Linked DNA regions of Homo sapiens: all the other regions are reported to be linked to region 4. The links are microRNA targets in miRTarBase. Many come from high-throughput screens and were not tested one by one. Region 4 holds a microRNA gene; each other region holds the end of a gene's coding sequence.
Evidence for each region. The annotated mature microRNA hsa-miR-4675 reads GGGGCUGUGAUUGACCAGCAGG and lies in region 4 at 1,363-1,384, shown strand. An mRNA with a match to its seed (bases 2 to 7 or 8) in the 3' UTR can be bound and repressed. Matches are read on the target gene's strand: a 7mer-m8 pairs with bases 2 to 8, a 7mer-A1 pairs with bases 2 to 7 and ends in A, and an 8mer does both.

Region 1 (3,125 bases), not on the chromosome of region 4:
ATTTTTCTTTCCTTTTAGGTGCATCACTTCATGGAGTTATGTTGGGATAAATGTGTGGAGAAGCCAGGGAATCGCCTAGACTCTCGCACTGAAAATTGTCTCTCCAGCTGTGTAGACCGCTTCATTGACACCACTCTTGCCATCACCAGTCGGTTTGCCCAGATTGTACAGAAAGGAGGGCAGTAGGCCATCCCCCAGGAGAATGACAGAAGCAAAGGACTTGTTACTAAGCAGATTTAAGGGTCAGTGGGGGAAGGCTATCAACCCATTGTCAGATCAGCATCAGGCTGTTATCAAGTCTGTTGGTGCTAAAAAGTAAAAGATGAAATGTTCAAAGAGTGAAATTTATTTATTTGGAATTCAGAAATTCCAGGTTGTATGACATCAGTTACTCAATAAGTGTGAATTCTCCAACTCTTCTTTTAATCCCATTTTAGAATTTAATATAGAGATCTCTGATTGGCAGGAACACTAGAAATAAATGTTCCATGGCCAGTAGTGCAAATGGGGGATTGTAGGTTTTGAAAAACCACCCTAAGCCATATTAAGGGGGTTGGAAGAACCATCGAAGCCTAAGGCATAGAAGAAAATTTGGGGTTAAGAAAGATGAAGAACAAAAAACAGCTTTATTGCTTATACATGACCAAGAAAAGGAAAACATGGCAAAAAAAAAAAAAAAAAGGCAAGATGTGTATTCCTTGCGAAAGAACAAGCCTGCTAACTTGGGAGGAAGGGAAGGTCAGGACCCAAATAGAGCCAATTTCCTGGAGATGGCCTGTTCTACTGGCACATTTTCCTGAGTCTGTGCTTAAAACCTTTCAGGTACTTTCAGGGCACAGAAACAATGCATGCTAAAAAATATATGGCCAAAGCTCCTTCCAACAAAGATTTAACTTGCTCCAGGAACAAAATAATTGCTTTAGGTTAAGAGGTAGTAATTAGAGACTATTCTTCTCCCTTTAGACCCCCACTAATCCCAAAAATAAAAATACACACCATGGAACACTGACAATTGAGTACCAAAGTATTAAAATTTAAAATAAATATCCCAAAAGGTAGCACCTGCTCATAGTTAAGGGATAGGGCACCTCTGTCCAACCATGTATTTTAAGACCAAGCACTTTATTAGAAATCTGTCCCGTAAAGAGAACAAATTTAGCAGTTAGAACTAAAAATACCAACTCATGGAATGTCATCATAGTTGTATCTACTGCTGGTGTCTTATACTGTCATGCTACTGTGAAGTAATTCCGTATTACACATCAGGAAAGTAAGGCCAGGAAGGTGAACTTACCTGCTCTGGGCCTCCTCATAACCAATGAGTGGCAGAACCAAGACCGAAAGTCTGAGTTTTCAAGCTTTTTACTCAGCCCATTAAGTGACAACCAGGAAAAAATAATACGTCACTTGATCTTTCTTCCCACAGTGAAAAAATGCACTTGCGTTCTGCCAGCCTTCTTTCAGTGATATGTTGGTTTCTTAAGAATTAACATACTAAGGATCACAGTATAGCAAAGGGAATTAATGTGGTCTCTGCTTGGTGCTTTAATCCAAAGGCAGACTGGGAAGAAGTGGATATGTCCCTGAGAAGCCTGTTTCATTTTGGAAATAATTCAACTTAGTTTCAGGGAAAACCTAAACTTCATGAACAGATTTAGAAATGAACAAGACAACATTTAAATGGCAGTTGCTGCCCTGAATCCAGAGTACCATTAGACAACATGATTATTTCCTAATTCTTCCCCATTTGGTACAGGATTATCTATGACAATTGAAGAAATAATTTGAACACAAGTCCATTTAGGCAAATATACAGCAATGGAACTAGAAAACCATTTACTATCCAATTACCATGTTTAGGCATATACTAAGTATAGCTATAGGCCCCATCCAGCAGGGAAATTTGCAAAAACTCTAGTCCCTTCTAATAAGTTGTCTATGGATGTTATCATGAAGGGAAAAGGTTTGTTCTTAGGCCCATGTCCTGATTAAGTAAACCGGACCACACCTGTGGGGTCAAAATATAGAAGGATCAAAGCACCAAGGCTAAAGACAAGTTAGTTGTGACACCTGCTATATAAACAGAGAGCAATACAGTGTTGCCTTGTCATACCATCCTACATGGCATTAGTTCCAATCCACCTCTTGATCCCAGCCCTTGACTTCCCCAAATTCAATATTCCGATTGGTGTACCCAGGTCACTATTGGATCCAGCTTTCTGGGTCCTTTAATTTGCTGTATATGCACTCTACACTAAACGTAATTAATTGCAAAAAAAAATAATCTCTTCAAGAAACCTTCATAACAAAATACCAGATTCCCTTTTAACAAGAAAAGGGGATCAAGCTTAACGCCAAAATAGAAGACAAGACGTCTGTCAGAACATACAGATGGCACAAGACAGCTCTGACCTCAGGCCCCGTGCTGAACAAGAGTCACTGGCAAAACCACAAGGAGTAAGAACTGTAAATATCCACAGTCATGTGGAAAACAAAAGTGTTTCCCATTTAGTCATCCTCTGAGCTCTCAGCAGACCTTTCATCTGTAGCTACTTTCCAATTTGTGCGTTTGTTTGTCCTCTCCTGTATTTCATTGTTGGCTACAGAGGTATGGGCTTTTTTCTCTCTCTTTTTCCTTTTGGTTTTCTTAGTGTCTCTTTCCTCACTTTCCTCAGAACTGCTGGATGCTGAATCATCTGAATGTGAAGTGTTACTTTCTGCCTCTAAGAATAAAGCAGGTTTTTTGAGAGACTTTTTCCTGGATTTTTTCTTGCGTTTATGTGGTTGTTTCCCTTTCCTTGTACCAGAAGCCCCAGTTTCTTCTGAGAACTCACTCGAGGAATCTGCTGTTATATCTGTGGCTTCCTTTTTGCTTTTCTTCTGTTTTTTGTGTGACCTTTTTTTCTGCTTTTTTTTGTGGGATTTCTTTGACTTCTTGTGTTTGCGGGATTCATGGGTAGATGACTTTACCTGGGGAGATGTTTTCTTCCCGTTGGTAATATCTTGCTGATCACTACTAATAAGAAAAGTTAAAAAATAGAAGCTTTTATGTAAAAAAAAAGCGTATTATTTTAATATTTTGCATTCTAGATTAAAAAATTGAGGTTAACATCTGAATTTTAAAT
Region 2 (3,125 bases), not on the chromosome of region 4:
TATATTGTGCGGTGACAGTCACTGTCAGGCACCTCAGAAGAGGACATCATGAAAACACATGGACACATAGAGGGGGAAAAAAAATACACTGGCGCCTACCAGAGGGAGGACGGTGGGAGGAGGGAGAGCATCAGGAAAAATAACTAATGGGTACTAGGCTGAAATACCTGGGCAATGAAATCATCTGTACAACGAACCCCCATGACACAAACTTACCGATGTAACAAACCTGCAGATGTACCCCTGAACTTAAAAAAAAAGAAAAGGACATCATGGGAGCCCAGGGCAAGAGATGGAACACCATCCTGGGAAGCCAGCATCCAGACAGGAGGCCTCTCTGGGGTGGCGCGAATGGGACAGAACACTTCCTTAGGATTGACACAGAACTAACACTGACCCACCGGCTTACTTTGGCCATTGTGCACATTCTTTGGCTCATTGTGACACCACCTGGTAGGCAGATCATAAAACTGTACCATGGGGTGGGCTACAGGTGGAGGAGACAGCGTTCTGCCTGCTTGGTGCAAGCAACCTCGCACAGGCAGCTAGGTGTGGTCTGCTCAAACTGGTTCTCAGAAGCCAAATCCTCCCCTCCTTTGTCTATTCACAAGAGTTAAGAAAAAGACTGCTTTCTCTGTTGATCTCAATAACAAAGGGGATGAGGCACTGCCTTGGCAAAGTCAAAATTGCAGTCACTTTCTGATTGTTAATGGAGAAAAGCAGGCGGCCTGCCAGGTGATGGAAAACACGCGGATCTTTCCTGTTTAACTTTGAAATGAATTATGTGATTGTTTTACAGAAGTAGTAACAGATTTGGCTTCCTTGTTGAGGCCACTGTTGAAAGTTGGTATTCTCCAAGCCTGCAACTGGGCAGAGTTTGTGTGTAATTAATAACTGAGAGTCCACTAAATGGGCACTCGGCCCTGTAAGCCATCACAGGTGAGCACGCTGGGGCAGTGATCATAAAGGTGACCCCTCTGAGATCAGGCTCTGGGCCAGAATGCATGAGAATCAGACAAAAAAAAAACAGAGGCAGAGTCCTCCTGCTAGGAAATCTAGAGCCTCCTTCTTTTTGGTCTTAAATTAACGTGGAACACAATTTTTAAATTTAAAATCACCCAGCACATCTAGTCAAGTAGTTCTCAGGTCTTCTTTTGTTAAAAGTTGCAGAGCCCATCATCCAAATGAATACTTAGTCAAGAAACCCTGGAAAGATGAACAAGAAACCAATAAAAATAATTACCTACCGGGGATTCAGGGGAGGAGAGGGCAGGGTGGAAGCAAGTTTTTTTTTGTTTTTTGTTTGTTTGTTTGTTTGTTTGTTTTGAGACAGAGTTCCGCTCTTATTGCCCAGGCTGGAGTGCGATGGCATGATCTTGGCTCACTGCAACCTCCGCCTCCCAGGTTCAAGCGATTCTCCTGCCTCAGCCTCCCAAGTAGCTGGGATTACAGGCATGTACCACCACACCCAGCTAATTTTGTATTTTTAGTAGAGACAGGGTTTCTCCATGTTGGTCAGGCTGGTCTCGAACTCCCAACCTCAGGTGATCCGCCTGCCTGGGCCTCCCAAAGTGCTGGGATTACAGGCGTGAGCCACTGCTCCCAGCCCAAGACTTCTTTTTTTATAGTTTTGACTTTTGAAGCATATACATTTCTTACCTCTTTAAAAAAGTAAGACCATTGGACGCCCCAAATGTGAAGCGGCTGAGAAGGGAGCTGCTCTGGCAGAAGGCGGTGGGAGAGGTGGAAGGGAGAGCCTAGCTACTCTGCCCTGTCCTCATCCCGGAGGCTCGGTTCCACTCCCACAGCTCTCAGCACTTGGACACCAATGGCCTGGCCCAATCCTTTGTTTTATAGATGGGGAAAAGGTGGCCCCCCTAGTTTGGTTCACTCTCTGGATCTCTCTTCCCATAGGACACATTCAGGAAGGGTTAGATACACTCCTCAGAAGACACAAAACACTCAATCCTTTTGAAAGATTTATTTTTAATTAAAAAATAAAAGTTATCTGAACATATCTGCATTGCAGTTTCAGGGATGGCACCTTAACCCATTTATGCCGAAGGTCACAAATGTTTTTTATGAAAAATCAGATCTTGGTGATGACCTTGAGCAGTAGGATAGAAATAACTCCCACAAGCTTAGGGTTCCAATAATGGAACCCTAGGCATGAATGGGTAAATGAAGCAAAAAACAAAACAAAACAAAAAAAAAACCAAAGCTTATCAGTTCTTGGGTCTTATGACCATCTTATAATGGGTACAAAGGCACACGTGTCTTCAAACAAACTTGATTCAGAAACATTTCTAACAACTCAGAACTACCCCCATGTTTTTGCCCACCCTCACCCCCCCAAAAAAATACAACCAAAAACATTAAATTCTTTTTTAAAACTACAGAAATAAGTGCTGAGTCAGCAAGGAACCTGGGCATGCTGCCCACATGCCGCCACGTCTCTCTGCTTTGATGACTGGCTGCCCAGAGGTCAGGAGGGAGAGAGCTAAGCACTTTCCACTGCATGCTAGGATATAGGGCTTGCAACATAGACCCAGCCCTACAGCCGTCACCCCAGCTGGGGCAGGCAGCTCCTAGGCGCTCTCTCCCTTAATCAAGGGCATCCACAGCTAAAGCAGCCTTTCAGGAGGTGACAGGCCCAAGACAAGCAAGTCTTTGTCAAATGCTTGCGATGACAAGGCCAATGGTAACTGTGGGAGGGAGGGAGACGGGTAGATCTCTTCGCCCGCAGTTTACTGGGCTGCTGGAAGGTTTTCTCTCCCTACTCTCCCTGCCTTCTCTCTTTTCCCTTCTCCCCAGTCTCCCTCTTCCCTCAAAAGGGTTTTACTTTAGCTTAATGGTGGGGGTTCCGAAGAGGGTATTGGCAACTCCTGGGGCGGGTCTGGTGGCTCTGCCATCTCTAAGGGGACATCACGTGCTTTCGGTTCCTGTGCTTCACAGAGCTCCTCCTGCCCCTGAGAGGGCTCCAGCTGCTCCTGACCCTGGGCCTGGCTGTTCATCTTCTCTTCAGCTTCAATCTCTTCTGATGTGGGGATGGAGTTCTTCTTGGGGCGACCTTTGGGTTTTGTGGGTGCTTCCTGTCCACCTTTAAGAACCTACGTGAGTAAAAA
Region 3 (3,000 bases), not on the chromosome of region 4:
CAGGCTCTCTGGGCCAAGCAGTGGGGAGGGGCTGGGGTCGCTGGATGCCCTAGCCCTGATCCCGCCATACGCGTTTATTTCGGCCCCCAGGACTAAATGGAAGCGACAGACGGCCGTCGGGTTGGAGCTGCTGGCGGAGGCAGGCAATTACTCAGCGCTCCAGCGGATGTTCCCGTCGCCTTATTTCTACCCGCAGAGTCTGGTTTCCAACCTGGACCCCGGCGCGGCGCTCTACCTGTACCGCGGCCCCAGCGCGCCGCCGCCTGCTCTCCAGAGACCTCTGGTGCCCCGCATCCTCATCCACGGACTCCAGGGCGCCAGCGAGCCGCCCCCGCCGCTGCCCCCCCTGGCCGGCGTCCTCCCACGCGCCGCGCAGCCTCGGTGAGGCGCCCGTCGGCTCCGGGGCCTCCTCCCGCGGGCTCGGCGTGGCCCCTTCCGCCCGCCTTTCTGAGGGCGCAGGTTCGACGCCCTTTCCCGGGAGGGGGCCCTGCCCGGCCCTCCCTGGCGCCCCAGCCCAGTGCCCCCCGAAGGGCCAAATGCCAAGTCCACTGAGGCCCGGACCCCGGACTGCGTCTCCCCAGCCCCCCTCGGCGTCCTCTCTCGCGGCCGCTCTGTCCGGGAGCCATCCCCACCCGCCGGGTGTACATACGCGTCTCTGCCACTCCCCACCCCCAGCCTCTGCCGGCTCCCCTAGGCAACCCCTTTCTCCCCAGGAGCGGGTGCGGCTGATTCCCAGGCTTCGCTCTCTCCCACGCCCCTTCTACGCTCCAGGTGGAGAACAGCCCCTCTCCCCGCGCCCCCGCCAGGGAGAGAAGGGGAGTGCGGAGCCCCGTCTCCCTACCCCTCGAGCACCTGGGCCAGCGGCTGAGCTGTACATACCGTGTGCAAAGTGTATATGAAGTTATTTATTCGTGACCCATGAGCCCGTGACCGTGTCCGTGGATTAGTGAGTCTGTGGCCTGTGCCCTCCCCACTCCCAGGCGGGGCAGGAAGGGGCCAAGGGGGCTTGCCCACCCACCCCGACCCCAGCCCCCAGCCTCAGCCCCGGTCCGGGGGCAGCCAGGCCTCTCGGGTTCTCTCTTTTTTAAATGTCGAAATAAACTTCTTACAAATGACCAGGCGCCTGTCCGCGCTCGCGTCGCTGGGTCCGCACTCAACCCCTCTCCCATCCCTCTCCTGGGGACTCGGTTTCCTTCCATCCTCAATAACGAAACATTTTTGTCCCCCTTCTCTTCCCCGGTGCTGTGGACATGCGCGGGGGCCCCGACGGGACTCGCTGGGGCCCGGGTCTCCCCTCCCTGGCCTCAGTCTTCCCATCTCTACAGCGAGGCCAGCTCGTTGTTCCCCTCCTCCTCCTCTGTCTCCATCTGGTTCCTAGCGGCTCCCAGACGGTCCCGAGGGCCGGGGCGGGGGTCCGTGCCGGAACAGGCGGGGGTCAGCGCGGGGCCTCGGTCGGCTGCGGGCCGGGCTGCGGGGCCCTCGCCGAGCCGACTCATCTGGCCGCGACAAGGGCCCCGGCAGCTGGTGACCGGCCCGCCGGGCGCGGGCCGACAGATGGGCTCCGAGGCTGCTCCCCCCATCACTCCCACCCTCCGCCCAGCGTCCGGCCGCGCTCGGGCTCCCGACGCTCGCGGGCGCCAAGGCGGCCCGGGCCTCCCGGCCTCCCGCACCAGGCAGGACTCCGCGCGCCTTCGCTGCGAACCAGACGCCACATCGGGTAAACCCCCACTCCCACATCTTCTCACCTCCCCTTTACCCCGGGAGGAGGTTGGAAATGAGACCCAGAGGGGAGCCAAATCCCAGCGTCTGCCCCATCTCTTCTGGCTGCCCCAGACCGCAGCTCTAGCATCTCAGGGGAGAGGGGTTTAAGTCCCGAGTCAGACTCGAGGCTTCCAGTTCACGTCCAAAGGGCCACGGTCACCTGAGACTGCTCCCTCTCTGGGGAGGTGGGCGCAGGTGCTCCCTTCCCACACACCACCTGCAGCTCGCTAACCCTCAGCGCTGGGAAGTTTTGGGGGCCGGCAAGCCGTGGCCCCTCTAGTTTGGGGGCAGGGTTTCTCTGAAGACGGGGGCTGTGTTCAGACTATAACCCCTCTCGAAAACCATACCCACAGCCAGGTCCGCTACTGTTTCCTCCCTGCCCCGAAACACCCTCGCACAGCAGCTTTCTTTCCTGGGATGGCGAGGGTATTATTCTAATTTTGCAAAATGCACAGCAGCTAATTAAGTCAAGGAGCCCCTCGGCTTTCGAGTTCTTTTGCATGTGAATGGGGGTTGGTAAATCCCCAGCTCTGGCTCTGGTGGGGGGTGAGGAGAGACTGTCCCCAACTCAGGGTTAATGAAGTGGGAAAGGAGTCTCTCATAGCCTCCTGCAAACAAAACCCCCCATGCAACAAACCCTGCCCAAATCCTACATGGATTGACTTAAACCCAGGGGATAAGTGCTTTAAATTAATCTCATTGAATAAGAATGAGACCAAACAAAACTCTTTAAAATCATATTAAAAATCTATCAAAGGACAACTTGCACTGGTGTGCTTTTCATTTTGTGAAAGTGAAGGAGATAGACCGTAGCAACCACCCTCACATTTACACAGTGGCAGCGCAAACCACAGACACATTCTCAACTATGTAATTGTCCTTGTACCTCAGAGGCGATTTCATATCCTACATTAATGAAGAACAAGGCTTCCCTACAAGTTTATAATTAGAATATTTTAAATTGTCCTGCACATCCCATCTGTAATAATAACTTCACAACCTTTGCAGTGAGGTGGGCTCCTGCCTTCCATCCACTTAGAAGGCTAAATTGGTTTCTGTTCCCAACCCTGAGGTTGGGCGAGCTCTCGTGTAAGAAAAAAAGAATGAATGTGGGACCCCAACAGGCCTGACAATAGGAGAGGGCTGAGAAGCCATCTTCCCCCGCTCTGCCACTGACCCATCCCCCCTCATAAACGCCGACTCAACAGGGAGGGGGCAACAAAGTTGAAAAGAAGTTTA
Region 4 (3,125 bases):
GGGTATATGATGGCAGGTGTGGTGGGATTATGATGTGAGTATGTGGTAAATGTAATGGGAGTATTATGGCGGTACAATGGCAGGTGTAATGGGAGTATGATGAAGGTATGATGACAGGTGTGATGAGAGTACAATGTGGGCATGATGCAGGTGTGATTCGAGTATGATGGGGGTGTGATGGTGGATATGAAGGCACTTGTGCTGGGGTTAGCTGGGAATCCTACCCCACATCCCCTCCAAAAAGTATGGCAGGCTGGGCTTCAGGAAATGGATCAGAACCATTCTCAAGGCCTATGATCCGAATGATTCTTTTACAAGACTTGCCGGTAGGCAAGAGGAAAGATCCCTGATGCTCTAGTGATACAATTTAAGGTACTTTCTAAGAATAGGAAATAAATAAAAGTTATGTTCAAACCTAAGCACAAAAACTCATGATAATGTTCCAAAATTGAATTCATACCCAGCATTATGACACCAGCATATCAACATGACAATTTTTACTGCAGTCCACCCTCCCTTATTCTTTCCAGCCCATGAGTCATATTGGGGTCACATTAATATCATGCTGATCTTAGCTCTTAAATTGCATAACCCAAAATCACCTCCTAAAATTTCTCCTCCAAGTATTGCTGGATGTAAGTGAGGTGTTTTATATGTGTTCACCAACATTCCACTTTTATATTTTTCCCCTCTTTGCCCATTAGTTAACATCCTTGCAGTCACAGCTACCGAGGGCAGTGCTTGACATTTTCACTCCTGCCTAGGCTCTGTGGAACAATGTTCCTATGCCTGTGCTTCTTTCAGAACACTAGCAGAACTAGCTGCACATGCAGTGAGAACTTTGCAGAATTCTGCTTGGCTTTGACATGTCACTTCATCTCACATACAATTGTGAGACACCCCTACCTAGCATTTAGTGAGGTTGCAGAAAACAGCAGCAATTGCTTTTGTTGCCATTGTGGCAGATTTCAGATCCTATCTAATGAATAGGAAGGTAAGGTTTCCAGGAGTCAATTTGTAAGAGAACTATTGGTTCCAAGAGACAGAGACAAGGGATTTTGTACACATTTTTAGGGAAAAAAATCAAAATGAGAAAGATACCTGCCCCCTTCCCATGGCAACCCTGCCACCTGATATTATGTGCAAAAAAAGCAGCATGGCATCTAATCTAGTGTTTCATAGGGCTTCTAGGGACAATAGCTCCACCCTCACAGGAGTTCAGATTCAACTGAAAGGCATGCAGGAGTTAGATTTATGAAGATTAAAAAGTCAGCTTTATAACTGATAAAATCTAGGCTGAATTGGACAGACTCACTCCATGAGAAATCCTGCTGGTCAACCATAGCCCTGGTCAGACTCTCCGGGGCTGTGATTGACCAGCAGGACTTCTCATGCACTGAGTCTTAGAGCCCTCTCCAAGCAAAAGGAGAGTAGAAGCGACTTACTCAACCATGGCATAGTTCTTCCCATGTCAGGAAAACCACTTACCTGGAGAGAAATAGGGTGTGGGCAAGGAGCTTTACCTTCTCCCAGGAGAAATTCCTGCAAAGGAAAGGAAATCCCGGCTACTCACCCTTGGAATCAAGTGGGGAACACATTCTCCCATTTCAGTGTTCCTTTCTGGGAAATGCACAATACCTTTCAAGGCCACAATCCACATCTGTTTGAGACTGGAGCCCTTATTTTTTGGCATTATGTTACACTTCCTCCCTGGAATCCCTGGTACATTACAAGTATCCAACAAATATTTACTAAAGTCAGAATAATTATTCTCACTATCATTATTCTTTCAGTCATAAATAAGTTGGAATTACTAAATATATCTTTTCTAAAATGGGTGTTAAATATATACAAGTAAGAATAGCTGAAAACACTTGCCACATTCTTCCTGCAACATATTTCAAAATGAAAGCCGATGTGGAAATTTCTTCAGCTCATGTGACCCACAAAGCAAGTATGCTAGAAAAATCCTCTGTCATCAATCATGATAGTAGGTCGGGTCTGGAACTGAAAGCTATTAAAAAAAAAAAAAAAAAAAAAAAAAAAAAAAGCTTGTCTGTGGTTTGGAGAGGTAACGTTAACCAGGTCAAATTCTCAAGAGTGCTTATTTTTAAAAAATAAATCTATACTGAATAAAGAAATTTGCACTTGATATCATTTCTTATTAGCCTGGGCATTTTCATCTTTAAAAATCAGTAACAGAATTTACAACATCTTTTAACAGTAGCTTGAGAAGTCACAGTAAAGTATAACATTAAAGTAGCCTGTAATGCTGGAAAAGCTCTCCTTAAATCTTGAAATCAATAGCTTCACTTAGGATGAATTCAGCTGAAGGTTATGGAGGACAAAATTCAAGTGGCTGAACCAATACAGGAACTTTACTTATTATCTTCTTTTTTTTTTTTTTTTTTTAGAGTCTACCAGTAAGGCCCTCACAGCGTTGGTTGATTCAGTAGCTCAAATACACCACCAGGGACTCAGTTCTTTCCACCCTTCTCTTTTGTCATTGCATTGGCTTTTGCACTCAGACTTGTCACTTCCTGGTCACAGTATGGCTACCACCTCCTGCTTAAAATATGGCTGCCACAATATGGCTACCACAGATCCAAGCATCACATCTTCACACGTGTCCAAAGAATGGAAGAAAGTAGGCCCTTTTCTCAGATTCCTTGCAAGAATGAGAAGAAGATAATTCCTTCTGTCTCATTGGCCAGAATTCTGTTGTCTGCCTTTCCGTAGGCCAACCACTGGATAGAATAATAGACTTCCCATGACTGACTAATGTTAATTAAGATTCATTATCTAGGGCTGTGAAGACATCAGCTCCCATGAAGCACAAGGTGGCAAAGGTTTGGACAAAACTGGTTGTAAGCTACCAAGGGAGGGAGAATGGAAATGGCTGCTGGAGAGGCAAAAAAAAAATTCTATCTGATGCATCAGCAATAACAAAATATCTTAATTTGAAAAGCTATCAGGAGATGCCTTCAGTGTCAGTGTGTTTATAAATACCTGTCAACATGGTTCTGATTGCAGCTGGTACATCTTTTACCTCAATCAATGTTGCCTTGGTATCAGGCAATAATAACAGAAGGGTTTTTTTTTTTTTTTTGGTTATTGAATGTATT

Region 1: miRTarBase lists TIMM8B as a target of hsa-miR-4675. The part of its 3' UTR that is shown has no 7-base or 8-base seed match.
Region 2: the mRNA of BARX2 is a reported target of hsa-miR-4675. Seed matches in the 3' UTR shown: 7mer-A1 at 2,752-2,758.
Region 3: the mRNA of BARHL1 is a reported target of hsa-miR-4675. Seed matches in the 3' UTR shown: 7mer-A1 at 511-517 and 7mer-m8 at 779-785.

The regions. Positions count from the first base shown.
Region 1 is chr11:112,082,356-112,085,480 of GRCh38, reverse strand. TIMM8B (translocase of inner mitochondrial membrane 8 homolog B) reads left to right here. Exons shown (of 2, transcript NM_012459.4): 2 at 19-681. The coding sequence ends at 186. It overlaps NKAPD1 (NKAP domain containing 1), which reads right to left. Exons shown (of 6, transcript NM_018195.4): 6 at 331-3,016. The coding sequence ends at 2,509. Among named protein-coding and RNA genes, the nearest start is that of TIMM8B, 2.8 kb to the left of the region's middle.
Region 2 is chr11:129,451,121-129,454,245 of GRCh38, reverse strand. BARX2 (BARX homeobox 2) reads right to left here. Exons shown (of 4, transcript NM_003658.5): 4 at 1,967-3,110. The coding sequence ends at 2,844. Among named protein-coding and RNA genes, the nearest start is that of BARX2, 77 kb to the right of the region's middle. RefSeq lists an enhancer at 428-929.
Region 3 is chr9:132,589,138-132,592,137 of GRCh38, forward strand. BARHL1 (BarH like homeobox 1) reads left to right here. Exons shown (of 3, transcript NM_020064.4): 3 at 91-1,115. The coding sequence ends at 385. Among named protein-coding and RNA genes, the nearest start is that of BARHL1, 8.0 kb to the left of the region's middle.
Region 4 is chr10:20,550,653-20,553,777 of GRCh38, forward strand. It overlaps MIR4675 (microRNA 4675), which reads left to right and starts at 1,318; the gene lies at 1,318-1,394.